Linked DNA regions of Homo sapiens. The protein of the gene in region 1 interacts with the protein of each later gene in a biochemical or structural test. Each region holds a gene or a part of one and is shown in the gene's direction. Other genes may lie near its edges. The genes, in order: SNX3, RAB7A and USP10.

Evidence for each region.
Region 2: the proteins of SNX3 (region 1) and RAB7A form a complex in vitro, tested with the Homo sapiens proteins (one study listed by BioGRID).
Region 3: the proteins of SNX3 (region 1) and USP10 form a complex in vitro, tested with the Homo sapiens proteins (one study listed by BioGRID).

The regions. Positions count from the first base shown.
Region 1 is NC_000006.12:108,249,070-108,259,461, reverse strand, and holds part of SNX3 (sorting nexin-3), read left to right. Parts: intron 1-10,392. UniProt on the Homo sapiens protein: Phosphoinositide-binding protein required for multivesicular body formation. Specifically binds phosphatidylinositol 3-phosphate (PtdIns(P3)).
Region 2 is NC_000003.12:128,788,791-128,799,182, forward strand, and holds part of RAB7A (ras-related protein Rab-7a), read left to right. Parts: intron 1-6,569; 5' UTR 6,570-6,577; coding exon 6,578-6,630; intron 6,631-9,152; coding exon 9,153-9,279; intron 9,280-10,050; exon of another isoform or gene 10,051-10,392.
Region 3 is NC_000016.10:84,703,000-84,711,730, forward strand, and holds part of USP10 (ubiquitin carboxyl-terminal hydrolase 10), read left to right. Parts: intron 1-1,740; exon of another isoform or gene 1,741-1,828; coding exon of another isoform or gene 1,829-1,861; intron 1,862-8,731. UniProt on the Homo sapiens protein: Hydrolase that can remove conjugated ubiquitin from target proteins such as p53/TP53, RPS2/us5, RPS3/us3, RPS10/eS10, BECN1, SNX3 and CFTR.

The DNA.
Region 1 (10,392 bases):
CAGGAGTTCGACACCAGCCTGACCAGCATGGAGAAACCCCATCTCTACTAGAAATACAAAATTAGCCGGGTGTGGTGGCGCATGCCTGTAATCCCAGCTACTCGGGAGGCTGAGGCCGGAGAATCTCTTGAACTGGGGAGGCAGAGGTTGCCGTGAGCCTAGATCGGGCCATTGCACTCCAGCCTGGGCAACAAGAGCAAAATCCCTTCTCTAAATAAATAAATAAAAATTGAATCATAGGATATGTTGTCATAGGGAAACTGCAAAATCCAGACTTCAGTACACCTGGGGAACTACATTCATACATAAACCTAGTGGAAAAGTGAATGTTTTTCTAATTGTCTGTAATACATGACAGATGGTTCACTAAAAAGAACTTCCTCTTTTGCCCTATTCACTAGTATTTTCTTTTTTTTTCTTTCTTGTGCTAAAACAGAACTTGGTATTCTTGTTTCTATACTTCCATAGCAGGTACTTCCTGTCACAAAACTGAATTGGAATCTCCTGCCTACACTTCCTCCACTTACTTTGAGTTTATCTTGCTGAATGCATTATATTAAATGGGTTCTAGTATAATAATTTAATCCTCTTTTTTTTTTAATACACCTAATACCTTAGCAAATAGCTGATGTGACACTTAAAAATGGTTTCTGGGCCTGGCGCAGTGGCTCATGCCTCTAGTCCCAGCACTTTGGGAGGCTGAGGCAGGTGGATCCCTTGAGCTCAGAAGTTTGAGACCAGCCTGGGCAACACGTTGAAACCCCTTCCCCACAAAAAAAGAAATTAGTTGGGCGTGGTGGCGCGCATCCCTGAGGTCCCAGCTACTCCAGAGGCTGAGGTGGGAGGATCACTTGAGCCCAGGAGGTCGAGGCTGCAGAGAGCTATGATGAGGCCACTCTACTCAAGCCGGCATAACAGAATGAGACCCTATCTCAGGAGAGAGAGAAAAAAGGGTTTTGGTATAGTCATTTACATGTTAAAGAAAATTTTTTTTTTTTTTTTTTGAGACGGAGTCTCGCTCTGTTGCCCAGGCTGCAGTGCAGCGGCGCTATTTTGGCTCACAGCAACCTCCGCCTCCCAGGTTCAAGTGATTCTCCTGCCTCAGCCTCCTGAGTAGCTGGGATTACAGGCATGCGCCACCACGCCTGGCTAATTTTTGTATTTTTAGTAGAGATGGGATTTCACTGTGTTGGTCAGGCTGGTCTTGAACTCCTGACCTCGTGATCCACCTGCCTTGGCCTCCCAAAGTGCTGGGATTACAGGCATGAGCCACCGCGCCTGGCCTGAAAATAATCTTTTTTAAGAACGATTAATGAGTCAGGGAACTAACAAATTATACACTTACTTTGGTTTGTATTTTTGTATAAACCAACTCACTGGGTGTTAATAGCTGTTAACAGTCATAAATGCCAGTGCCTATGTGAAAACCTAATTGAGTTTTTAATGCATGAAATGACTTTGGATTTCTTTCTTTTTTTATTTTTATTTTTATTCTTTTTGAGACAGAGCCTTGCTCTGTCGCCAGGCTGGAGTGCAGTGGCGCGATCTTGGCTCACTGCAACCTCTGCCTTCCGAGTTCAAGCGATTCTCCTGCCTCAGCCGCCCAAGTAGCTGGGACTACAGGCACGCGCCACCACGCCCAGCTAATTTTTGTATTTTTAGTGGAGACGGGGTTTCACCATGTTGACCAGGATGGTCTCAGTCCCTTGACCTCATGATCTGCCTACCTTGGCCTCCCAAAGTGCTGAGATTACAGGCGTGAGCCACCATGCCCAGCCTGGATTTCTTTTAGTATGTAATGTGTTAACTTAAAACTAAGGACACCATATAGTAAGGAAATTAGGCCTTATTTGAGCAGCATATGATTTTTTAGAGTAATTATAGTCTTGCATTAAGGCAGAGTGGCTATGACATGAATAGTTTAATATTTTGTAATTTTTTTCTTCTTGAGATAAGAGTCTCGTTCTGTAGCCCAGGCTGGAACACAGTGGCATGATTGTGGCTCACTGCATTCTCAAACTCGAGGACTCAAGTATTCCCCCCGCCTCAGCCTCCCAAGTAGCTGGACTACAGGGTACTACTATACCTGGCTAATTTTTTATTTTTTGTCAGATGAGACTTGCTATGTTGCCCATGATGGTCTTGAACTCCTGGCCTCAAGTGGCCCTCCCCCTCTCAGTCTCCCAAAGTGTTGGAATTACAGGCATGAGCCACCTCACCCAGCCCTGCAATTTTATTTATTATTTTCTAAATGTTGCTGCTCTCCCGAACCCCTACTGACTACCTTTTGCTGTTGAATTTGCTATGTGGAAAACCATTTTATGTTCCAGAATTTGGGCTTTTAAACTATCTTACAGTTACTGTCTCATTCTGGTCTTGAGAAAAATTTACAGTTTTACAGGATCTGATTGAAATTACTCTAATTCACAGGGCAATTTTATATGGATGGTGGCACTTAGAATGCAAGTTTCCCAATCTCCATTTATCTTTTGGTTTGAGGATAGTGTTTAAGACTATTAGGATCACTTGATTAGTATCTCTGGGCTTTTGAAAATAATTACACAGTGTTATGTTTTTAAAAATTGTTCTAATGGGTAGGTACAGCAGAGAGCACCATAAATGATTAAAGGTTTAGGAAAGTTCAAGGTCTGGAATTATTTAGGCATATTCAAGAGAAGGCTGAAAGCAAAATTCAGTCACTGTTTATGAAGTTTGTGCTGTAATATAACTTTAATATTCTGGAGATTTTTAAGTTAATCAAGATCTATTTTACCTGGAGACCACTGTTTTGAACAGGAATGGAATTAGAATCTTTCTTGAGCTCTGACATAGTCCTCAGTTCAAAGAATAGATTTAACATTTCCTAGCTGGGTAAGATACAAAATCAAAGCTCCACTTCCCCTCTGTGAAATAGGTGTGCTAATAATAGTACCTACCTCTTAGGACTAAATGGGATAAGGCACATGAATCTTTCTAGCACAGTGCCTGGCACATAATAAGCACGCAAAATTTAGCTCTTTCTAAAGATAGACATTTTCTAAATTAAACGTCAGTGATCAACTACATTTTCTGTGTGTTAATGTTTAGTTGAGTTACTAAAATTGTTAGATTTTCTTGTCAAGAAACCTACTTGTCATGGAAGTATACCTTCATTAAGCAAGCATGGTATAAAAATAAGCTATCTTATTTGGTACTTAACCAAGTAACCTTTGTGTATGTATTTATTTTTTCGAGACAGGGTCTCCCTCTGTCTCTCAGCCTAGAGTGCAGTGGTGCAGTCACAGCTCACTGAAGCCTTGACCTCCCAGGCTCAAGTGATCCTCCCAACCTCAGCCTCTCTACTAGCTGGGACCACAGGCGCATACCACCACACCCAGCTAATTTTTAAATTATTTGTAGAGACGAGATCTCACTATGTTGCCCAGGCTGCTCTTGAACTCCTGGGCTCAAGTGATACTCCCACCTCAGCCTCCAAAACTGCTAGGATTATAGGTGTGAGCCACCATGCCAGGCTCCAAATAATCTTTTAAAGTTGAGCTTTATTAAAGCATAAAGCTGAATAATAACGTTGGCTGATAAAAATTTTGACAAGGTGCTAAATAAATGTAGCATCTTATCTTGACAGTGCTTGCCGTTCTAAACTTGTATATGTTTTTTCCTCTGGGTCAGTCATCTAATCTTAAATTAGGAGTCATTAATATCCAGATTGGAAGCTGAGAAATAAATTTTAAAATCTTAGACTTATTTTTGGGAATTATAAACATGTATTATTGAAGGGCTAAAATATTAATAGTATTTTAAAGAATCGGGGGGTCGGGCACGGTGGCTCCTGTATGTAATCCCAGCACTTGGGAGGCCAAGGTGGGAGGACTACTTGAGCTCAGGCGTTGCCACACAGCCTGGGCAACGCAGTGAGACCCTGTCCCTACAAAAATTTAAAAATTAGCCAGGCATGGTGGCGTGTGCCTGTAGTCCCAGCTATGTGGGAGGCTGAAGTGGGAGGATTTCTTGAGCCCAGGAGGAGGTCAACACTGCAGTGAGCCACGATCATACCACCGCACTCTAACCTGGGTGACACAGTGAGACCCTGCCTCTAAAAAAAGCAAAGCAAAGAAAAAAAAATCAGGGCATTTTGATGCCAGAGGACATCTGCAGAATCTATGTAGCTCTATCAATTGGCCAATGAGATGTTGTCTGTTACACATGTTGCTGCCAGCTACGGCTGACTTTTCCAGGATCTCCATCAAGGAGAAGCATGCTATTAGCAGTGAAGATTCTGTCCTTATCTAATCCATCCCCAGAATGGAGAGTGGGGGAGGAAGACAGTGGCTATTTTAAAGTAGTCCTGTTATATTGAGTTTTTAGGGATTCTGTTCTGTTAAGGGATGTATCATTTGAGTATCTTTTATGTGCAAAGCACTGTGCTCTATCTATAAAATTTAATCTTGAGGTAACCAAGCAGAGTAGATAATATTCCTGTAGAAGCTGATCAACTGATCCTCATCTCTTGTCCTTTCCTCATTTTAACTCCAGTCCTGAACTGGTATCTCCCAATTAAGCTGAGTTCTTTTGTATCCAGGCCTTTTGCACACACTTCCTCCTCTGTTAAGAACAGGCTTCCTTTAAGAGCCTCATCTGGTTACTATCACTTATCCTGCAGGACTCAGCCTTAATGTCCCCTTTTTAAAGATTTTGCTGATCCCTTGACTCTGGACCAGATTTCCTTCCTGTGTGCCCTGGTAGCTTTGTTAGGAATAAATTTGTTTGCTTGTCTTTGGCTTCCTGTAAGTTCCTGTGTCACCCATTATAAGCTCTTAGAGGACAGGGACTGTCATAATCACCCTTACTCAATATCCAACACTGCTTGGCACATAGTGGACACTTACAAATAAATGAAGTTTAAGAAAGTTAACTTCCCCAGGGTCACAGCTATTAAATGGTAAAACTGGGATTTGAACCTAGATTTTCGGACCTTCAGAGCCCGTACTTTTGTTTGAGACAGGGTCTCACTCTGTTGCCCAAGCTAGAGTGCACGGTGGTGCAATCTGGGCTCATTGTAGCCTCGACCTCCTGGGCTCAGGCAACCCTCCCAACCTTCGCCTCCTGAGTAATTGGGGCTACAGGAGCACGCCACTATGCCTGGCTAATTTTTTTGTATTTGTAGAGACAGGGTTTCTCCATGTTGCCCAGGCTTGTCTCAGACAAGGTTTTACCATGGTTGCCCAGAGCCCTCACAGAAAATTCATATCACCTGAGGAGCCTTTGAAACCATTCAGGTTCTCTTTTACTGGGGTGGGGTGGGGTTTGGGCAGTGGCGGTTTTTTTTTTTTTCTTTGAGACGGAATCTCACTCTGTCACCCAGGCTGGAGTGAGGTGGTGCAATCTCAGCTCACTGCAAGTTCCACCTCCTGGGTTCATGCCATTCTCCTCCCTCAGCCTCCCGAGTAGCTGGGACTACAGGTGCCTGCCACCACGCCTGGCTAATTTTTTTTGTGTTTTCAGTAGAGATGGTGTTTCACCTTGTTAGCCAGGATGGTCTCCATCTCCTGACCTCGTGATCCACCCACCTCGGCCTCCCAAAGTGCTGGAATTACAGGCGTGAGCCACCAAGCCCGGCCGGCAGTGGTGGTTTAAAAAGCATCCCAGTAAGGGCACTTATATGCAGCAAGGATTTCTCCTGCTGCTTATCATGCTATCTGTCTCACTGAGATAGATAGACAGTAGAGAAGGAAGAGAAATATACATAGAACCACAATGGTTGGTAGCTTTGATGGGATTAAAAAAATAGATTCTAAAATAGTAAAACATAAAATGAATAGCAGATCTTGGCAACAGAGAGGAAAACCAGTGACATTTGTCAAAGATAGAAAACTTTTTGGAGGGGAGGCATTTAAATATTAACTGAAAGCATACCAATCTCTACAGCTTAAGTTTTTGGGAGGAAGGGGAGACACAGACTACATTCAATCAAGCCAGATCTTTTTGCCCTTGTCTTGCATCATCCATGTCTATATCCCTGTATAATAATCATGAAAGTAAGCCAGAAGTAAAAAAAAAAAAAAAAAAAAGACATATGTATTCATTTAAGAAAGGAATTTTTTGGAGACAGGTTCTCGCTGTGTTGTCCAGGCTGGTCTTGAACTCCTGGGCTCAAGTGAGCCTCCTACCTCAGCCAAGTAGTTGGGATTACTGTTGCATGCCATCAAGCATGCCTCAAAAAAGGAATCTTTATAAATATTGTCACTTTATACCTGTAAAGGGGAAAATCTAAAAAAGTGCTTTGAGCTATCCTGGTGATCACATGCAATAGACATTTTCCTCTCCTGCTCACCTTTATCATCATGCTTATCTCACCCCTTCCAGAAAGTAGTAGACTGTTATTATTAGATACTTTGATGTTTGTACCATGTTATGCTGCTTTCATGTAAATAGAGCCAGCAATTTCTTGAACATCAGATAAGAAAGATGGTGTCCAAAAAAATCTTGGAACTGCTATTTTCTTTTTTCCAGAAGTTTATTCTTAGGGCCGGGTGTGGTGGCTCATGCCTGTAATCCCAGCGCTTTGGGAGGCTGAGGCGGGTGGATCCCTCGAGATCAGGAGTTCGAGACCAGCCTGACCAACATGGCAAAACCCCATATCTACTAAAATACAAAAATTAGCCAGTGTGGTGGTGCATGCCTATAATCCCAGCTACTCAGGGGGCTGAGGCACAAAGATTGCGTGAACCTTGGAGGCAGAGGTTGCGGTGGGTGGCAGCGCGACTCTGTGCCAAAAAAAAAGAGAAAAAGAGAAAAAAAGTTTATTCTTAAATGTGCAACAGGCTCCAAGACATTTCATCCTTTGCTTCCTAGAGTGGAAGCAGAAGATTTTATAGTAGGAAATGCAGATATTTAAATAGGAATGGGATCAAGGGTCATCATTGCCTCGGACACAGTGGTTTGTTTTTTGGTTTTTGTTCTTGTTTTCCAGATTTCTCCCTTCTAAGTACTAACCAGGCCCAACCCCGCTTAGCTTCTGAGATCAGACGAGCAATTGCATTCAGGATAGAATGGCCATAGACTTTTGCCGGATTTCTTAATTCCACCTATCCAGGGAACCCTTCCCTGTGGCCTTTGCTTTTAGCTCCTCAAGTTTTTTCTGCTCCTCTTCTTGTTTCTGCTTGAAATCCTTGTCTTCCTCATACATCTCCTTGGCCTGTTTCTCGTCAGGGGCTTCTTGCCGTAGGTGCCTGTCAGGAAGCTGGACGTGGTGCCTGCCATCCCTTCCTTAGACCCAGCACAGGAAACTGGAACTGCAGTTTACTGTTTTGATTCCTTAGTTAAAAGACAAAGCTTTCAACCAAAGTTCTACTTCATTTTTTTGTTTGTTTGTTTGTTTTATTTATTTATTTATTTTTGAGACAGTCTCTCACCCTGTTGCCCAGGCTGGAGTGCAATAGTGCAGTCTCAGCTTACTGCAGCCTCTGCCTCCCTGGTTCAAGCAATTCTCATGCTTCAGCCTCCCAAGTAGCTGGGAATATATAGGTCGTGCACCACCATGCCTGGCTAATTTTTGTATTTTTAGTAAAGATGGGGTTTCATCGTGTTGCCCAGGCTGGTCTCGAACTCCTGGCCTCAAGTGATATGCCCACTTCAGCCTCCCAAAATACAGGCATGAGCCACCGCGCCTGGCCACTACTTCTTTAAAGAAATATTTAACTGACAACCTAGGAATTTGGAATGTGTTAGTAAAATGTGACGTTTGCTATAGCTTGCCAGAAAGGTTGTATCAGGTAGTATAGAGTTTGGGCTGTTCTCAGATAAAGAGGATAATTTTTTGTTTTTTTGGTTTTTTTCTCCACATGGAGAGGTTTCAGGTACAGTCCAGGGTTAGTATTGTGGCTTGACTATCAGCTTCTAACATCATATTCACATTCTAGCCAAGGGGAATGTTTATTTCTGCCCTTGAAGGACACAACCAGGAAGTCGTATTATTTCTGTTTCTGCGCATTGCTGTACTTAGCTACAAAAGAAGCTGGGAAATTTAACCAGGTGGCCATGTGAAGAAGGGAAGAGTAGACACTGTTCTTTGCTTTGCCACATTAACAAATGGTTGTGGTTGGCCCTTCTAGGATATGGCTTTAAGCTACACTGTGATCATCTGTTATTTCCTTTTTTTGCTAATGCCTGGAATTTCAGTTTAGAGTAAGTTCATTTGATTTGCAAGAAATAAAATTGTACTTTCATTAGTTTGGAAGTCTTAAGTGAGTAAGTTTTGATTCTTTCATGATAATTAATTTTGTTAAGTTGAGAAAAAAGGCAAGCATGAAGACATGGCATATCTGATAGGGGTATACCTTGAGATTGGGCTAGAGATTCTAAAGGTAGTTGATTAACCTTTTTTTTTTTCCTTCCAAGGCTGCTTAAAACTATTTTGGTTTTACTTAGGACCACCATTGTAGTTGCTGACATTGAATGATGGAGTATATAATTTGAGCCACCAAAATAAATGAAGCCAGTGTCTCTTGGCAGAGAATCACTTAATCTCTTAGCAGAGAAGTAGAGAATTACTTAAAATAATTTTGTAAAGTTACTTTGTGTCCAGCAGTATTGGAATGGTCATTTGATAATTATTTGTTCTGTAAACTTTGATTTTATCACTGATGGAGCATTTCTTTTGGCTTTCCTAAAGTTATTTTAGCACCTGCCACCTATAGCTTGTTTGCTTTCCGTTTTTTCTAGTCCTGCCCTTGTGGGATGAAGTTCTCTGTTGTATAAGTCTCGTCCATATTGAGAAACAGAGGAGTCTCAAAGCCCCTCCTTGTGTCTGGTCTTGGTATCTCACCCCTCTCTTGTCTTGACTTTACTGGTTATCTTCAAGTGGAAACAAGTAGAGAAAAATCTTGTCAGCTAGGCATGTATGTGTATATCACCAGGTCTTGTCTTAAATTTACACCCAAAGATTCCCCCATGGTATATAACTGAGGACATTCTTAGGACACTGAGGAGTTTAAATAGAGCAAGGGTTGGCAAATTATGGGCTTACCTTTTTTTATAAATAAAGTTTTATTGGAACACAGCATACCCATTTCTTCCCATATTATCTAAGACCACTTTTACTCTATAAGGGCAGAACTGAGTAGTTGAAACAGTATGTTTACTATCTTGCCCTTTAAGAAAAGGTTTGCCAATTTTATGTCTAGAGTTTGCTCATGTAACATTGAAATAATGGAAATCAAAAGGCACTTGGAGAATCTATTATCAAAACATGAGGCCGGGCATGGTGGCTCACTCCTGTAATTCCAGCACTTTGGGAGTCTGAGGTGGGTGGATCACTTGAGGTCAGGAGTTCAAGACCAGCCTGACCAACATGGCAAAACCCTGTCTCTACTAGAAATACAAAAATTAGCCAGCTGTGGTGGCGTGCCCCTCTAGTCCCAGCTACTCAGGAACCTGAGGTGGGAGCATCACTTGAACCCTGGGGGCGGAGGTTACAGTGAGCCAAGATCACACCACTGCACTCCAGCCTGTGTGACAGAATGGAACCCTGTCTCAAACCCTAAAAAATATCATGAGGCTATGGAAAAAGCATTCATTTAGGAAGCCAGTAGTAAACGACTGAGGAAATAGTCATTAAATATAACACTGCACATTCATCAAATAATAAGATCTTAATGCATAACCCTATTGTTGGGTGGTGAATGAAATATTAGATACCATTCTTTCCTCCTAGAGGCCCAGTTTTACATAGAAATTGTAACTTTGTGTTGTCATCCCACTGATAATATTAAGGCCAGGCACAAGGTTTTTCAACTTTTGAAGTTTATTTTCTCACTCGAAACCTTTTATGTAAACTCCTTTGAATACCCACATAAAGGAAAGAAAGTTGGTGCTGATAAACTAGTGGGCAGCAGGTTCATGGTGGTTCAGGGTCGGTCAGCAAACCAGTGCCAACACTGAAGATGATGCCAAACAAAATTGACTGCAATCTGTTCTAGCCAGGATCATGGTTTAGATATTTTCTAGCCAGAATTAATTAATTTATTATTTTTTTCTTTTTTTGAGACAGAGTCTCGCTCTGTTGCCAGGCTGGAGTGCAGTGGTGCGATCTCGGCTCACTGCAACCTCCACTTCCCAGGTTCAAGCAATTCTCCTGCTTCAGCCTACCAAGTAGCTGGGATTACAGGCACGTGCCACCATGCCCAGCTAATTTTTGTATAATTAATTAATTTCTCATACAGTATCATCATTTAATGATTTGTGGGGTTTTGTGTGTGTATGTGTTTTAAGAGACAGAATCTCACTACATTGCCCAGGTTGGTCTTGAGCTCGTGAGCTCAAGTGATCCTCTTATCTGCCTCAGTCTTCTGAGTAGCTGGTACTACAGATGTGAGCCATTACACCTGTCTTAAT
Region 2 (10,392 bases), on another chromosome or scaffold:
TCTTTCTGACCACCGACCTCTGCCCACCCAAGCCCTTGAACAATATTTTTCTTGATCTTTTTACCTGCTCATGTTTCCTTATTTTGTCTGCTTATGTGGCCATTTGGCTTTTCTGTGGCATAGATGAAGAAGGTGATGACTGCAGGCGAATAAAGGAAGATGCCAGCTTTTGATTTGTTATGAGAAACATTGTACTTGAAAGAAAGAATTGTTTCATCGTTCAAATACTGGTACCAATACTGGTAGTTTCGCTCTGAGGAGCTTCTTCCGATGCACACTGGTGAGGTTTGGTTTGGTGGCAGAAGGAAAGAAATGTGTTATGAATATACCTTATTCTAGAAAATTTTTAGAGGATATTAATATATACATGGATTAATGGATGTTATCTAAAATGCTTTCCTTGAAGGACCAGGTCTCAGAGATCTTATGTAACTCTTTCTTCCTTTCTACTCTGCTGGCTGCAGATTCTCCTGTGAGAGGAAGTGGTCGGTGCTTTAGAGAACTGTTTTCCAGTTAGAAATTTCAAACTTTGTAGCCTTTTTTTTTTTTTTTTTTTTAAATCTTTGACTTCATTTCGCTCTGTTGCCCAGGCTGGAGCGCAGTGATGCGATCTCGGCTCACTGCAACCTCTGCCTCCTGGGTTCAAGTGATTCTCCTGCCTCAGCCTCCCGAGTAGTTATTACAGGTGTGTTTCACCACACCCAGCTAATTTTTGTATTTTCAGTAGAGATGGGTTTTTACCATGTTGGCCAGGCTGGTCTCGAACTCTTGACCTCAAGTGATCTGCCCGCCTCAGCCTCTCAGAGTGCTGGGATTACAGGCATGAGTCACCCATGCCTGGCCATAGGCTTTTAAAAAATAATTTCAGTCTTCAGAAATCCATGAAGATGGAAATAGAAATTGATAACAAAAGCAGAAATTGCTTTTGGACATTTTGAAGCTAACTCTGCTTGGGCAGCTTCTTGTAGCAAAAGTTGCATTTAGTGTGTTTTGTTCCTGGCTTTTTTTTTTTTTTTTGAGATGGAGTTTCACTCTTGTTGCCCATGCTAGAGTGCAGTGGTGTGATCTCGGCTCACTGCAGCCTCCACCTTCCAGGTTCAAGCGATTCTCCTGCCTCAGCCTCCCAAGTAGCTGAGATTACAAGCGCGTGCCACCACGCGCAGCTTAATTTTTGTATTTTTAGTATAGCTGGTGTTTCACCATGTTGGCCAGGATGGATTTGTCAGTCTCTTGACCTCGTGATCCACCTACCTCAGCCTCCCAAAATGCTGGGATTACAGGCATGAGCCACCACGCCTGGCCCCTGGCTCTTTTCTAGAAACAAGTGTCCCATTCTTGATCTGGGAGAACATTAAGTACAAAAATATACCTTTTAACTTTTGCCAGTTTAAAGCCATCAATGTCCTGGTGAAAGAAGATGTGGAATTCTTAGTATCAGCTGTTTAGTACCATTTGCAACAACTCTGAAATGCTTAGCCAGCCCTGAGTGAAGATGAAAATCTGCATTTAAATGTAATTTGTCTTACATGATGAGTGGAGATTTTTGTCATCAGAAATTGATTTGAAAAAATCAACAGATTAACATTTTTCTCCAAAGTGGAGGTGGCTGTTTGAGTGTAAAGGTAATGTGCTCCTCTAAGAGTCACAGTTAAGTATAAGGAAACAAAAACATCTGTAATCCCACCACATGGAACAACTTGCTAATATTTGTGTATATTCCTTTCTGCTTCATGTGTAACCATTTTTACATTTAAATCTTTACTCCTTTGGGAATCTCTTGGAAGAGGAGATGTAGAGATCTTAATTCTCACCAAAATTTTTCTGGCTCTTACCATTTAGTGAATTGTTCATCTTTTTGCCACTGAATTTTATAATGCCATATTTGTCAAAATTGTTCATTTCTGGTGTCTGTTTCATTGATCGGTTTAGTCCTATTCCAGCACCCCACTGTTAATACTGTATTTTTATAACATGCTTTTCAAGACTGTAAAGGCAAGTCTCTTGTCATTTGTGTTTTAGGGGAAGGGACATTTCTTGTGTATTTATTTATTTTTATGAATAAAAACGGGATTGTTTATATTAAATGCTCCCCAGCCTCCCCTTCCCACCTCAAAAACAACAACAACAACAACAACCCTGGACTTGTTTAAATAGGAGAGAATGCATGAATGCAAGTCTTTACATTAAGGCTCCCATAGACTGTTTATTCAAATTCTTTTTTTCTCTGTAAAATTATTTTTCTCATTTAGGTCCTGTACTCGTGCTAACCACTGTAATAGTGATTGTTGTATAAATGGGAAAAATCTTTCAGGAAAGTGAATTAGCAAAAATCATGAAAACTTCTTCATGTTTTGTTTGTTTTTTTTTTTAAAGACAATTTTGCTCTTGTTGCCCAGGCTGGAGTGCGGTGGTGTGATCTCAGCTCACTGAAACCTCCGCCTCCTGAGTTCAAGCGATTCTCCTGCTTCAGCCTTTTTGGTAGCTGGGATTAGTTGCCCACCACCACGACCAGCTAATTTTTTGTATTTTTGGTAGAGACAGAGTTTTCCCATGTTGGCCAGGCTGGTCTCGAACTCCTGGCCTCAGGTGATTCACCTTCCTTGGCCTCCCAAAGTGCTGGGATTATAGGCGTGAGCCACCGCGCCTGGCCAAAACTTTGCTCTGGACTCAGAAATCCCATCCCTAAACAGAATCTGTGAGTTACAGTTGACAAAATCCTTTCCTTGCATGAGAATTTGACTTTTGTTTAACTTTCTAGCTCTGTTTCCCTGGGAGCTAGATAAGGCAGAACATAACATTTGTTTCTGGGCATGGTCCTTGTGGTAAAATGTCCCCTGGTTGGTAAATTACATTTGGATGGGAAAGAGCCATGGATAAGTGATGGGCCACCCAGGCTTTTGTTTCATGGAACACAGTGACTCTGCTGGGCATGTCCTTATGGGGAGCCTAAGGAGCTGTCAAAAGAGATACTTGCACCCCCAGGATTGAGCATTCTGAGTCAAGGTATTGAGTCGGCACAGTCTCCCTGTGCCTGAGCCATCTTCTGTATGGACTCTTGCAAGAACTGCTGCTGCTGATGACCTGCCACTGCCCTGCCTGCCAGCTTTGTCTGTCCCAGTCTTTCTCAGTGGGCTTGTGCCACATGTGGCCTGTGATAATCTTACGAGTCAGAATCTAGAAAGATCTACCCACCCATCAACCCTCACACAGGTGTTGCTGTATCTCAAGGAAGTAATCCCATAGATTACAGCATTTTTTCCAAATTTTTGTTATATTAAATAAAGAGCGGGAATGGCTATTTAAATGCTTAATTCACTCAGAGGAATATTAGACATTAAGACGTAAGGTGGTCTCACGGTCACTGCTTTGTGACACGTGTGGGTAGAGACTCAAAGGGAAGGAAACAAACATGAATTCTATCATGTAGGAGTCTGGAGGTTGAAGTGTATTTCCTGTTTTTTTTCTTTTTAATATTATTAAACAGCATTGGTACACCAGTGAAACCTATTAACAAAGCAAGTTATGCAAATCCCTTTTCCCATTCTTAAAATCAGTCACTTTCATAAATATTCTCCAAATATCTTTGCATATCCTTTTATCATCTTTTTATCTATTTTCTTTTTTTTTCCTTTTTGAAAAAGAGTCTTGCTCTGTCGCCCAGGCTGGAGTGCAGTGGTGTGATCTCAGCTCACTGCAACCTCTGCCTCCTGGATTTAATCGATTCTCCTGCCTCCGCCTCCCGAGTAGCTGGGACTACAGGTGCGCACCACCACACCCAGCTATTTTTTTGTGTATTTAGTAGAGATGGAGTTTCACTATGTTGGCCAGGGTGGTCTTGAACTGCTGACCTCAAGTGATCCACCTGCCTCGGCCTCCCAAAGTGCTGGCATTACAGGTGTGAGCCACCACACCCAGCCTTTTTTTCCCTTCCCCACCACTCACTGCAACCTCTGCCTCCTGGGTTCAAGCGATTCTCCTGCCTCAGTCTCCCGAATAGCTGGAATTACAGGCACCCACCGAGCTAATTTTTATTTATTTATTTATTTATTTATTTATTTATTTATTTATTTATTCATTTGAGACAGTGCCTCGCACTGTCACCCAGGCTGGAGTGCAGTGGCGTGATCTCGGCTCACTGCAACCTCCGCCTCCCGGGTTCAAACGATTCTCCTGCCTCAGCCTCCTGAGTAGCTGGGATTACAGGCGCGTGCCACCATGCCCAGCTAATTTTGTTTTGTTTTTTGTTTTTTTGAGACGGAGTCTCGCTCTGTCGCCTAGGCTGGAGTGCAGTGGCGCAATCTCGGCTCACTGCAACCTCCACCTCCCGGGTTCAAGCCATTCTCCAGCCTCAGCCTCCTGAGTAGCTGGGACTACAGGCACATGCCACCACGCCCAGCTAATTTTTCATATTTAGTAGAGACGGGGTTTCACCGTGTTAGCCAGGCTGGTCTCGATCTCCTGATCTCATGATCCGCCCGCCTTGGCCTCCCAAAGTGCTAGGATTACAGGTATGAGCCACTGTGCCCAGCAATTTTTGTATTTTTAGTAGAGACAGGGTTTCATCATGTTAGCCAGGCTGGTCTTGAACTCCTGACCTTGTGATCCACCCACCTCGGGCCTCCCAAAGTGCCGTTATTACAAGCATGAGCCACCGTGCCCAGCCTTTTCTATTTTTAGTAGAGACGGGGTTTCACCATGTTGGCCAGGCTGGTCTCGAACTCCTGACCTCATGATTTGCCTACCTTGGCCTCCCCTTCTTTCTATTTGAAACTTGCCCCCATTATCATCATCTGATCTCTATCTTGAAATATGATACCAGACCTTAGAGTGTGACATTTAAACTTTGACCAGTCAAAGCGGTCCCTGGGGAGAAAGGTAGGGGAATAGTGGGGCTCCACATATAATGGATAGTTTGGGGTATACCTCTCAGTGCTGATTATGATGGAAGACAGAACTCCAAGTCATCTTATACTGCCCCTAACTAGCACTAGTAAGAACTTTCTAGATGAATGCTGGTGGGCTGAGATACCGTGTCTTCACAGTCCAGCCATGGGCATGAGGCTTTTGGCAGAGAAACAGCTTGACCCTCTGCATAGGTCATGGGACCTGGGGTGTGTGCCTAGCAAACCATCCTCTAGTCTGGCTCCTATTCCCATACTGTTCTTGTAGCCAGAAACAGACTCTGAAGCCATCGAGGATGGTTACTTTCAAGAGCGTAGGCCTTCTTAGCAAATCCTGCCCTTTAGGACAGTAGTCAGGTCTGATATTTCCTTTTAGTTAGTGGTCTTGGGTGTAATACCACCTCTTGAGAAAGAGAACAATTGACAGCCAAGCATCTGGAAAGAGAGGGATAGCTGGATTACCTTGCCTAGGAGCTGTAACCTGCTGCTTCTCTCACTGTCTTCTGGACTCTGTGTTCTGTTACTCATCTCTGTATTTGGCATACCTTAAGATGGTAGCGGCCAGTATTTACTAGTCATCTGCTGTATTCTAGTTACTGTCCTGAGCATTTTATTTATTCAGTCTTCACAGCATTCTTAGGACATAAGAGCTGTCATCTCTATATTCCCTATTCCAACAGAGAAATTAAATGACTGGCTCAAGGTCATATAGCTAAATTAATAAGCGGCAAAACCAGAATAGAAATCCCTGTGGCCTGGGTTCATATCTGCTGCTTAAGTCACTCCCACTATAGGCACTGCTGTCAGCCTTGCCTTCAAAAGGTAGGTGGTTAAAGAGGAAACTAACAAGTAGTTCTTCTGAGTCCCATTCATTTTCTGGAAGTCACTGAGTCATACCCTGGCAAATGAGAGGCAATTACAGCAGGAGCCCTGTCTTGATGAGTAGATAGACCATGCTGTGGCAAGTCCTGGAAGACAGTTGAGCAGAGATCAGGCATTTTTCACATCTTCTGGTTATGAGTAGACAAGGCTGCCTGAAAGATTTTCTGGAAAAGAGTAGTCACTAGAGCTGCAGAGTCAAGTATTCAGACGGTACCCAACATTTAATAAATTTCTACTTGGCATTGAGTATACAGTGGGGAGTAAAACTGTCTTCATGGAGATTGTTAGAAAAGGGATAGACTAGATTAATATAGTACATAAAAATGTCAATTAGTGGTAAGTGCTCTGAAGGAAAAGCAAGCAGAGTAACGGGATAGAGAGCAAATGAGGGGTTATGCTGCTTTAAATAAAGCGGTCACTTCTTTGAGAAAGTGATACTGAAGCAGCGACCTGAATGAAGCAAGGACCAAGCTGTTGAGTAAGTTGGAGCATTAGTTCAAATTGCCAATCCATTCAATTGATCCACCACCCAAGTGAGAGAATACATTCTCTCCAACAGCTTGCAGGGGCAGGATGGCCCTGCTGTGCTGTTCTGCCTCGCTCTTGGGTCCAGAGTTTTGGTGAGTGATACTGTTTTTTATCAGTGCCCCCTGGTGGAAGGAAGATACCTAGCAGGAAGGTTCAGGGCCCTGCACTGTTGGGGCTGCTCAGACATTTGTGCAAGGGAGGTGTTTTGTTTTGGTGTTTCCATCACACTCACAGTGATTTCTCCTTTTCCCCCTTTAGTTTGAAGGATGACCTCTAGGAAGAAAGTGTTGCTGAAGGTTATCATCCTGGGAGATTCTGGGTAAGTTACTCATGAATTTGAGCTAACAGATTGGCTTAGAGCTAAGCCTCTCTGCTGTGGAGCCCACACTGTCCGTGCTGCCACTTCTTGCTTTCATAGTGAGGCTTAGGGCCTTACATGTTTCCCTCCACGGCAGAAATTTAGATGATCCCTTGTTATATAACCTTTTGTTCTCTAGTTTTTAGCATGATTTTTTATGGGGAACGGATGGCTATTTGAACTCAACTAAGGATAGGCATTTTCATGGAATCCCTTTTCTCCAAGCTGGCCAGGCTGGGGAGTCTTCCTTACGTAGATGTATTGCCATTGGCATCTGGCGTAGCAGATGTGCTTTTTTTTTTTTTTTTTGGAGACAGAGTCTCGCTCTGTCGCCCAGGCTGGAGTGCAGTGGCGCGATCTCGGCTCACTGCAAGCTCCGCCTCCCGGATTCACGCCATTCTCCTGCCTCAGCCTCCCGAGGAGCTGGGACTACAGGCGCCCGCCACCACGCCCGGCTAGTTTTTTGTATTTTTGGTAGAGATGGGGTTTCACCGTGTTAGCCAGGATGGTCTTGATCTCCTGACCTCGTGATCCGCCTGCCTCGGCCTCCCAAAGTGCTGGGATTACAGGCGTGAGCCACCGCGCCCGACCCAGATGTGCGTTCTTAGTGCACCATACAGTATCCTCCTGCTGCTGTGCCTGCTTCAGATCTATCTGCAAAAGAGCCTGGGACGGCAGAACTGGGTTCTGATTCTAGATGTGCCACTAACCATGTAGCTAACTCTAATGGCTCTTAAGATTCTGTGGTAGGTTGGGTGAGGTGGCTTATGCCCATAATCCCAGTGCTTTGGAGGCTGAGGGGAGGATTGCTTGAGCCCAGGAGTTGGAGACCTGTCTCTACAAAAAAAATTTAGCCAGGTGCCGTACCTGTAGTTCCAGCTGCTGGGGAGGCCGAGGCGAGAGGATGGCTTGAGCCCAGGAGTTTGAGGCTGTAGCAAGCTATGATCATGCCGTTGCACTGCAGCCCGAGTGACAGAGCAAGACCCCAACTCTTAAAATAAAAAGATTCTGTGGTAGGCTTTTCAGACTTGGCATCTGAAGGGACCCATGAAAGCTTTGACTCATTGGAAGCTTATGTATTTTTAAAAATAACAACAATAGCAAATGCAGGTATGCTTCTTTATTCCAAAGTCCCCTGCCCTTCCTTTGAAAAGCCAGAGGTTTTTCTGTCTTGACTGGCTTATTTGAATCACCTGCAGAACCTTTTTTTGTATGTGTGTGAGAGACAGGGTCTCGCTCTGTTGCCCAGACTAAAGTGAATGGTGCAATCACAGCTCACTGCAGCCTCAACCTCCTGGTCTTAAGCCATCCTCCCACCTCAGCCTCCAGAGTAGCTGGGACCACCAGTGTGTGCTACCACTCCTGGTTAAATTTTTGTATTTTTTATAGAGACAGGGTTCTACCATGTTGCCCAGGCTGGTCTCAAACTCCTGGGCTCAAGCAGTCCACTCGTCTCGACCTCCCAAAGTGCTGAGATTACAGGCTTGAGCCACCATGCCCAGCCTTTGAAGAACCTTTTGTTCGCTAGCATTTGCCCAGCCCCAGACCAGTGGGCTAGGGCCTAGATTTGTGCTCTCTCTCCTACCCCGCAACTCCATCCCCGTCGGGATGGAAAGATAGTGCTTTTAGGCCTGCCTTCCCCAAACTTGTGCAAAAAGTCTCACCAAGCCCTTGTTCGATTCCAGGTTTTGCCACCTCTCACCTTGTAGATTCTGGCTTAGATGGTCTGGGTTGGAAAACACTGCCTTCGGCTGTCTAGGTACCTCCAGGTTCTTTAACACAAATATGAACATGTTCCTTTGTGGCCAAGAAAGGTGATATCACTGGCTATGGGGGGGAAGGTTTTTGTATTAGCTTTAGGTTACCTTAACCTTATCACACAAAAATCACACATTGTCTCTTGCTGAGTTTTCTTACTAGAAAACATATTTGGAGGAGCATTCTTTGAGGTGGATTTGTTTTGGTGATATATTGGTGCTTTTTCTGCTTCAGATTTTAAACTTTAAAGCAGCAAATTGTCTGAGTGGTGTGTGTCTGCTGAAAGCCAAGGTCTTCCTCCTGGTGTTACTTCATCAAGCTAAATAGCAGCCACTAAATGGAGAAACATCTAAGATAGCAGGGATACTGTTGGAATAGCAGAACAGTCTTAATAGTGAAGCTTCTTTTAGAAAGCAGTATATTTGCTGGCATCCTTCTAGAATGGAAAAAATAATACTAGGCTCTACCATTTGACCTGGCTGTGCCAAAACATGTAAGCAGCTTTTCCACATCTGCCCCACATCTGTACCCTATATTTTTACCCAGAGAGAAAACACAAAACTTCAAAAGTGTAATGCTCGGAAGGCTACTGGCATTGCCCTTTGCTGTGAGGGCAGTTTCTTGTCCTTCAGGTCAGGCAGATTCTTTTAAATGCTTCAAGTAATTCGTGTCAGTTTCAGGACCCTCCTATTTGACTTATACTTATGGTTTTTCTCCAATTTCAGAGTCGGGAAGACATCACTCATGAACCAGTATGTGAATAAGAAATTCAGCAATCAGTACAAAGCCACAATAGGAGCTGACTTTCTGACCAAGGAGGTGATGGTGGATGACAGGCTAGTCACAATGCAGGTAAGCACATGTCTTGGCTGTGCTGACCAGGCCTTGATAGTTCATTTAGTCTTAATCTTTCCTCATGCATAGACATTTTCCTTCCCTGTTCTTCAAATCTTATTATCTTATTTGTAGATAATTGGCTGATACTCAGTTAAATTTGAATTTCAGATCAATAGTGAATACTTTTTTAGTATACTTCTAGTGTATCTCAGATACGACTTGCTAAGACACACTAAAAAATTCTTCTTAAAAAAAAACTCAGATTTATCCTTTCTTGTTTTTTGTTGTTTTTGGTTTTGTTGTTTGCTAAATTTGGCAACCTGCAGGTCTCTGTCTTGTGCCTCTCTTGACATCCTTGCCCAGTGCTTTAGGTAAACATCTTTGTCTCACCTCAGTAGTGAGACATAAACTTTATTTTTCTGACTTCCTATTTCATACGTAACTTCAAGAGTTGTGTGTCTATTGAGCCAATCTTTTTTTTATGTATCAGCTTATTAATCTTTCAAGGGTTCCCTTTCAACAGTTAGGATAAGATACAGATTCTTTCATATGACTTGTTGAAAAGCCTTCACATTCTGGCTATAAACTATTATTCCCTTTTTTTCCCCCATTGAGTCATTTTGTTTGTATACATGTATTAACATCCCTAGAAAAGAAACCCCTGAAGGATGGATACCTTGAGCCCAGGAGTTTGAGCCTGCAGTGAGCTGTGACTGCTCCATTATACTCCAGCCTGGGTGATGGAGTGAGACCCTGTCTCTAAATTTAAAAAAAAAAAAAAAAAAAAAAAAGAATCCCAGGATTTTCCCTCCTGTATTTTCATCTCTTTCTTCATGGTCCATGATGCCAGCTGAGGTTGTCAGTACAACCTCACTTTGAAACCAAACTATTGGGATAGGAGTAGATTATCCTGTCATTTTTCTAGATCTTTGAGTTGCACATCACATCTGGGGCCAATCATTCCAGGGGCAGTTTTAACCTGCCTGTGAGGTTTACAGTAATTTTCCCAGCTCTGTGATGACCAGTGATTTCAAATTTTCAATGTGATCATGTTTCATCTTCACACTTAGAACCAGACCATGACTTGGGAGCACAGCCTAATAAGAACCTGGTGTTTGCCCTTGAGAG
Region 3 (8,731 bases), on another chromosome or scaffold:
AAAAAAAAAAAAAAGAGCGAAACTCCATCTCAAAATAAATAAAAAAGTTTATAGGTTAATAACCTTATTTCCAAATATTAGAAAGTGTTGGTTGATCCCTGTTACCTGTATTGAAGTGTAATAGTGAAGAATTTGGAAACATTTTGAGACCGGTAACTCAGCATTTTAGCAAAGACAAATAAATGAACTTTAACAGTTGAAGTGTAGGTCCAAGTGAATATCCTTGTCACTGAGGGGACCGGTTAAATTATTTGGGGTAATTAATTTGAAGCTATTAGTTTTGCCTTACACCGAAAAAATATTTGTGATTATTGATGTCATTTATAGTGAAATCTCCACAATAATGCTTCCTACACCCAATTTGAATGTCATGCAGTTGGCTTCTGTCCTTGTCTCTGCATAGACTCACCCCAGTCTCTTTTTTAGCTTGTAATAGCAGATCCTCCACATTTTACATGATGGAAAGTCTTGGATTCCCCCTCTAGCATATGGCTGAATGTTACTGTATTGCTGAATATCTGTTTCTAGCCAACAGCTGGATTAGTGTTAATTCTTAAAAGAGATACATTTTTATTAGAATCTCAAGTAATGAGCAGCTGAAGTAAATACAATTGTTTGAAATGTTGACAGGGCATTTGGAGATAACAGTTTTCCTTTGCATAGTGACAGCAAGCTATTTAAACATGTCCTAAGAGTAGATGTTTTAAGTTTGTGAGCCAGTGGTCACCTTAGTGGTTTGTACAGATGGCCTGAGAAGTTTGTGAGCCAGTGGTCGCCTTAGTGGTTTGTACAGATGGCCTGAGCAGCCGCGCCGTACCAGGACCTCACCATCATGCTCTTGAGCCCATCTCATTGAGAGCACAGCGCACTGAAATTCCAGTGAATACTAAGCGGGCCTACCACATTCTAAATTCCTCACTAAAGCAAAAGTTAGGACATGTATTCCAGTGTTCTGTTACGTGGAACTGATAGGATTTAAGCAGTGATTCACATAGGAAAACTTAAAGGAGAAAAGGATTACGAAGCTTAATGATTGCTGTTTAATGCCAAGCCTAAGCGGCACGTTGCACTGTGCTGTGCTCAGAATATAACATTCAAGTAATTGAGAAAAGTGGTATCATCTCCAATTGAATTAGTTACATCAGGGTTTTTGTTTCGGTTTTTTGTTTGTTTGTTTGTTTTTAAAGATATAATTTCAGACATGTAGGTACTTCCTGTTAATGGTTCCTGGTATTCAGGTGGCACATTAAACGTGGTTGCTGAGGACACTTATTACTGGTACTATACCAAAATATGAAACGTAGTGGGAAGAGCTTGCTTTTGAATTTGTAATTAGGCTGTTACTTTTCTATTTACTGCCACACATGCAAGAATCACCATCGCACAAAACAGATAAATCTGTTTGCAATGGAATTTGCTGGCCTTGGGCCATTGGATTACTGTCATTTGTCACTTTAGTGCCACTTCAGCAGTGTAGATGTTCATTTCCAGAGACTTGTATGTGCTTGGACTGCAGTTTTCCTGTTTATTGAAGTGTTCTCCCAAAAGGTCTTTCTTTGACCATTTCTGTCAATACAGGCTGGATGAAGAATTAGTGTAGGAAAATAAAGGTAGCCCTTGGGGTATGTGTATAGTATTTGTTTCAAGGATCAGAAAATGTAGAATTTATCATAAACCTCGATGTAGAATCTTCAGATCCTAGATTTTTTCTGAACTGGCTATTTTCTGGCTATTTGAAAGCTCCTGGGCCATGATCCCATTTTCATCAGATGACTTGAGAACCCAGAAGCTCTACCAGCACTGCCATTCTGTCCCGTCTTGAAACATCATGCCCTGGTTGCCCTCTCCTGGAATAGGGCAGGTAAGGTGTTGAGATAGAAATGTGGTTTGGGGCTGTTACAGCCTGAATTCCTCGACTTTCCCTTTTGGGCTCACATGAGAATTGTTAGGAGAATGTGCATGTGGAGTGCGGGCCCAGCACCTGCTACCGTCTGCGCTGTAATGGTGGCTGCTCCTAAGAGTCCTCAGTCTCCTCCCCGTTGGGCTTGTGTGTACAGCCTTATCGGTTGTCATTCTTCGGATCCATTCTCAGTTTATTTTTCTGGTATTAGCTGGAGGGACATCTCCTTAAGCCTGTACTCTATGGCTCAGGAGTCTCAAAACCAGTCCATTTTGAAGTGAGAGTATCCCTAATAAAAAGGTGAGTGTCCCCACTCCTGTGCCTTGTTTTTTTTGTTTGTTTTTTTTTTTGAGACGGAGTCTCGCTCTGTCGCCCAGGCTGGAGTGCATTGGCGGTATCTTGTCTCACTGCAACTTCTGCCTCCCGGGTTCAAGTGATTCTCCTGCCTCAGCCTCCTGAGTAGCTGGGACTACAGGCACCCGCCACCATGCCCAGCTAATTGTTTGTATTTTTAGTAGAGACTGGGTTTCACCATGTTAGCCAGGATGGTCTCCATCTCCTGACCTCACGATCCGCCCACCTCGGCCTCCCAAAGTGCTGGGATTATAGGCGTGAGCCACCACACCCAGCCACTCCTGTGCCTTTTGAACCTGATTTTTACATCTAGCTGACTCCTCCCTCCGTCCCTTTCCCTCTTTCTTTCTTCCTGATCTGATGGTGCTAGATTTTTGTTTTCCCATTTGTCTTTGTTTTATGAAGATGTGCTCCTTTCCATTTGTGTATGTTGAGTACAGACATAATCATGCCCTTGCTTGCTTTTTTTTTTTTTTTTTTTTTTTTGAGACAGTCTTGCTCTGTTGCCCAGGCTGGAATGCAGTGGTGCGATCTGGGTTCACTGCAGCCTCTACCTCCCAGATTCAAGCGATTCTCCTGCCTCAGTCTCTCAAGTAGCTGGGATTACAGGTGCCTGCTACCACGCCCAGCTAATTTTTTTGTATTTTTAGTAGAAACGGGGTTTCACCATGTTAGTCAGGCTGGTGTGGAACTCCTCACCTCAGGTGATCCACCTACCTTGGCCTCCCAAAGTGCTGGGATTACAGGCATGAGCCACTGCCCCCAGCATCCCTACTCATTCTTTGAAAAAAACAATTTGTTGTTGTTTTGTAGAGACAGGGATTTGCTGTGTTTCCCAGGCTGGTCTTGAACTCCTGGCCTCAAGGGATCCCTTCTGCTTCAGCTTCCTAAAGTACTGGGATTACAGGTGTGAGCCACCGCGCCTAGCCTCCCTATTCATTCTGCAAGTATCAGTCTTTTTACTTTTGATAGGACATGTTGAAGTTTTGGTTAAAAATAGAAGAGGATTTGAAAATGAAGTTCAATTCTAGAGGTTTTCGAGATTCCTGCCCAATATAAAAAACTTCTGATACATTAAAACAATTTTTTTATACTTCATTTTTTAGAGCAGTTTTAGGTTCACAGCAAAATTGAGAGAAAAGTACAAAGAGTTCCTATATACCCCTTCTCTTGGTATTTTAAGTAATAATTTCCCTTACGTGGCTGCAAAGACTATATATATATTTATATGTATTTATTTGTATATGTATTTATATTTATTTATATTTTTATATTTATATATATTTTTATATATATATATTTTTTGAGACGAAGTCTTCCTCTGTCACCCAGGCTGGAGTGCAGTGGCGCAATCTCGGCTCACTGCAAGCTCCGCCTCCCGGGTTCACGCCATTCTCCTGCCTCAGCCTCCGGAGTAGCTGGGAATACAGGTGTGCGCCACCACGCCCAGCTAATTTTTTGTATTTTTAGTAGAGACGGGGTTTCACGGTGTTAGCCAGGATGGTCTCCATCTCCTGACCTCGGGATCTGCCCACCTCGGCCTCCCAGAGTGCTGGGATTACAGGCGTGAGCCACCGCGCCGGGCCAAGACTATATATATATTTATTCAAGACCTGAAGTAGGCTTTCTGGGTAGATCTGATCATTGGAGAAGGAGAAACATATTTATTACGAGATACTAAGCATTGTAGTAGTCATCATTTGAAGCCTATAAACTCTATAAACTGCATAGTTTAGAAAGTGCCTTAGCTTGTTTGAGCCTTTACAGCAACTCTGTCCTGTATTATTATAACCATTTTACAGATGAGTAAGATAAGACCCAGAGAGGTTGTGGCTTGAGGTCAAATGGCTGCTGGCCATCAGGACCTTTTAAAAGCAGGTGTTTTGACTTCTAAATCCTTTGCTTTTTCTACTTTGCCAGACTGGTTTTCTGGAAGAGACTGATGAAGGCATAATCTTTCACACTGTGACTTCCCCTTAGTAGTTCCTCCATAAACATTTACAGAATGAATGAATGAAATGTGCATTTAGAAACTTTAATGTTACTAATTACAAAATTTGTTACTATAATATGTTACTATTCACTAAAGTTTGTGTGGGGTACATTTTAATAAAGTCGTTTATTTTATTTTCTAGTATAAAGACATGCTATTTTTAAGACACGAAAACAGCACAGACGTATTTAAAGTGAAAAGTAGAAGTCATTCCCTTCCTCTCTGATCCTTAATCGTCAGTTTGGTGTGTGTCTTCTATGCTTTTTTCCACTGGAGTATTTTGTTGTTGTTGTTCCGTTGTTTCATAATATGGTCTGTTGTATCTAGTCACTGAACTTTATTGAGCAAACCTTGTTTTCAAAATTATTGAAAACATCCACTGAAGTCAGTTTTCTTAGGTTTACCTAATTTTGCCAGGGAATGAAGCAGATATTCTGGAGATTGAAGTGACTTATCAGGATCCAGTGTGCAGGGGATTGTGGAAGTGCTGCCACAACTTATAACATGTTGTCCAAACAATTTTTTTTTTTCTTAAGAAATATTTTGGGCCAGGTGCAGTGAGTGACTCACGCCTGTAATCCCAGCACTTTGGGAGGCTGAGGCAGGCGAATCACTCAAGCTCAGGAGTTTGGGACCAGCCTGGGCAACGTAGCAAAACTCTTTCTCTACAAAAATACAAAAATTCACTGGGCATGGTGGTGCTCTCCTGTAGTCCCACCTACTTGGGAGGTTGAGGTGGGAGGATCGCTTGAACCTGGGAGGTGGACATTGTAGTGAGTCGAGATTGTGCCACTGCACTTCAGCTTGGGTGACAGAGCGAGACTCTTACGTCAAAAAAGAAAAGATAAGAAATATTTTGAAGACTTCCACCCCCTTAGTAGTAGTCATGCTGTCCGGTGTTCATAGTGTAAAAAGAGGTCTGGCTGGGCGTGGTGGCTCACGCGTGTAATCCCAGCACTTTGGGAGGTCGAGGTGGGTGGATCACCTGAGGTCAGGAGTTTGAGACCATCCTGGCCAACATGGTAAAACCTCATCTCTGCTAAAAATACAAAAATTAGCCGAGTGTGGTGGCGGGCACCTTTAATCCCAGCTGCTCCGAAGGCTGAGGCAGGAGAATAGCTTGAACCCGTGGGGGCAGAGGTTGCTGTGAGACAAGATCACGCCACTTCACTCCAGCCTGGACGAAAGAGTGAAACTCCATCTCAAAAAACAAAAAAGGAGGTCTGATTCACATTCAGATTCTTGTCCATCCATTGCCTTTGCACTAGATTTATGAGAGGACAAACTTTTTATTAGTTGGAGATTGGTAAGTCACCTGCCCTAGGGAATAATGAGAAACTGGGTAATTCACCTGAATTTTTCTCCATCTTCTTCAAAATCATGTTTTTGTCTTCTGTCACTTTGTTTCATCAGAGTACTGCAATGGCAAAAAACAAAACACTTCCCAACTCAGGTCCCACTCCTGAGAGATAACCACATTTAAGTACTTCTGACTTGTAATAGAATGCAAAATCGGGGCTTCCAAGTGTGGTTTACTATTTTGTTTAGAATTAATTTGTAGAATACTAGACACTTTTTTCAGAACCACATATGAAGGACTTTATATCTTTTGTGATTGTTCACAGATTTTGGTGGCCGGACGTTAGGAGTATAGAGCTGAAGAGAGAATTCCTGTGCTTTAGAGGTTCGCTGGGTAGTGAGGGAGAGAAGCAGGCTAATGGCTGGGTGCATCCAGTTTTAGGGTGGTAATTCCTGTAACACAAGTGTGAACAACATAGTCAAGAACATTCATTCATTCGTTTGTTCATTCATTCAGCAAATAGTTACCGAGTGGCTGCTGTGTACCAGGCACTGAGGAGGGAGTGATGAGCGAAAACAGGCATTGTTTCTCTCGCGGAGGAGTTTATGGGTCCATTGAGGAAGACAGCTTGCTAATCAGATAATCACAGTTACGTACACGTCACTCCAAACTGAGAGATGTTTCCCAAAGGAAGGGAACACAATCTGAAGTCAGAGAACCGTTCCCGTGGAAGTGACGTGTTTACAGCATGAGACAGTGGGGACAGCATGTGTGGTGGACCTTTGGCTGGAGGGAATTTGGAGCACTTTGGAGAACTCAGCAAGGAGTTGTGTGTCTTGGGCACAGAGCTGGAGGGGAGGGACAGACGCACCATCCAACCTTGCAGCCTTTGTTAGATGTTACTGTCTTTATTCTGAGAAAAGTGTGGAAGAGGGGGTGGTACAACATTTGACCATGGAACCTCATAATCACATTGCCTTTTGGGATCATACTCTGCCCAGTGAAGAATAGACTCACGGGGTCGCAGTGGCCATAAGGAGATCATTTAGGGCAGGGTCCTTGGACTTTTGACTCGGAGGGTGCCGTGGAGGTGGAGAGAAGTTGCGTGACTCAGGAGTTAGGTATAAGGTGTTTCAAAAAAGGAGGAGAGTGGGACTGAATGTTGGGCAAAGCTGGGAAGACGTCTCTTGTAGAACGGTGACATTTGAGCTGGAGTTTTTCAGGCAGAGAAGCACACGGACAAGGGCATGTGGAGGAGACTGTGCAGAGGAACTGTCTCAAAGCCTGCAGCCTGTTTGGGAAACAGATAAATTTGTGGCTGAAATGGTGTGTAGGGTGAAGTGGTTAGCCGGGAGTCTGGAGAGGAGAGAGAAAGAATTTGGTAATCCAAGCTCAGGACTGAGTGAAGTTGGTAGCAACTCTGTGTTAAGATAGCTGGTTGAGGCCGGGTGCGAGGCTCACGCCTGTAATCCCAGCACTTTGGGAGACCGAAGTAGACGGATCACTTGAGGTAAGGAGTTTGAGACCAGTCTGGCCAACATGCTGAAACCCCATCTCTACTAAAAATACAAAAATTAGCCGGGCGTGGTGGCGCATGTCTGTAATCCCAGCTACTTGAGAGGCTTAGGCAAGAGAATCGCTTGAACCCGGGAGGCAGAGGTTGCAGTGAGCCAGACTGTGCCACTGCACTCTAGCCTGGGCAACAGAGCAGACTCCATCTCGGAAAAAAAAAAAAAAAAAAGATTGCTGGGTTGAGTTGATTGTGCAGGGGTCTTACTTAGATGCTTCGAAAGTTGTCAGGGATTTGATTCTTTAGGCTCTCCTCCATAGCTGGGACTCTACTCTCTGCTCATTTTGGCATCTTAAGCCTCATAACTTTGAGGGGAAAGAAGTAGGGCATTTCTTTTGGGGACTTTTGAGACAGATTAATGTGAGGCAGGTAGCCCTTCAGTGTCCTCAGTGGTAATTGGATAGAGTAGTTAGGGAAGGTCATTTAGGGACATATTCCCTTTATTTTGAGGGGGAGGCACCTTTAAAAACAAGCATCTGTCCCTTGATTATATTCGTAGAAAATATTAAGGAAAACTTAGGTGACTTGTTACCTTATTTTAAATGTTTCCTGTAGTACTTTTGGTAGTAAACTTTAGAAATTTGGAATCATTGGATTTAACAGCGTTTTTAGGTTTGTGATCCTCGAGTGCCCTCTTCTAATACCAGAATCACCTGGCACCCTGGGTGCCACCAAGAGACACTGAGTAAGGATCCCTGTGAGCAGGTCCCCAGGCCGTCTGAGCCAGGCTCAGGTTGCAGGTCGTCCGCATGGGTTTGTGTACAGCTTTTTTTGTTTTAACTTGTTGAGCCCTTTCGCATGAATAGCAATAACGAAATCGTATTTTGGACAAAGTGTTACATCTCCAGTCTAGGTTAGGCGTGAACAACAACAAAAATATGAATTGTGCCCCTCCCTCTGAGTGTGATACTCACTTATTTTAGCGCCGAGTGGAATGGTGGAACAGTTGTGAGCAGATGAGAAACCTGACATTTTGCCACTTTGAAGAGCTGTCATGTCGTGTCTTCAGAACGAGATTTCAGTTTGGCTTGGCATTCATTAAGTCCATGATTATGCCTTTTAAGCAAGCATTTACCCAGTACTTGCTCTGTGCCAGGGCCCGTGTTGGGATTTATAAGTTGCAAAAAAACATGTTTTTAAAAATGTAAGTACACATGTGTTCCCCAGAACCTTAAGAGCTGCTCTGGCTGTTGCTCTGCACCCCACATCTTGAAATAGGACCTTTGTGGACAGCATGGGATCAGCACACTCCCCCACAGCTCAGTGTAACTGTGAGCATCTGATGTCCCAGAGAACTGGAACTTTATAATTCATCCTGAAGCCTGGTTGTCAACATCTCTGAGGATGTGTGCATAGCATTAAGCCAATTTACCATCGGGAATTCCTGCTCTCTTTTGCTGTTGTTGCTCATGGATTCGTCAGGTGAGGAAATTCTAGTCTCTAGTTTTTCCCAAACTGGTGCTGAAATAATTACGCTTGGTTCTCTGTTGCTTCTTACCTCTTTGCTCTTCTGTGCCACAACAATGTATTCTAAGTTAGGTGCCAGCAGCAGAAACTTTTCTTCCACCTATAACTAGAGTTTTAGGCGTGAGGAAGGGCTAGCTTTTTTTTTTT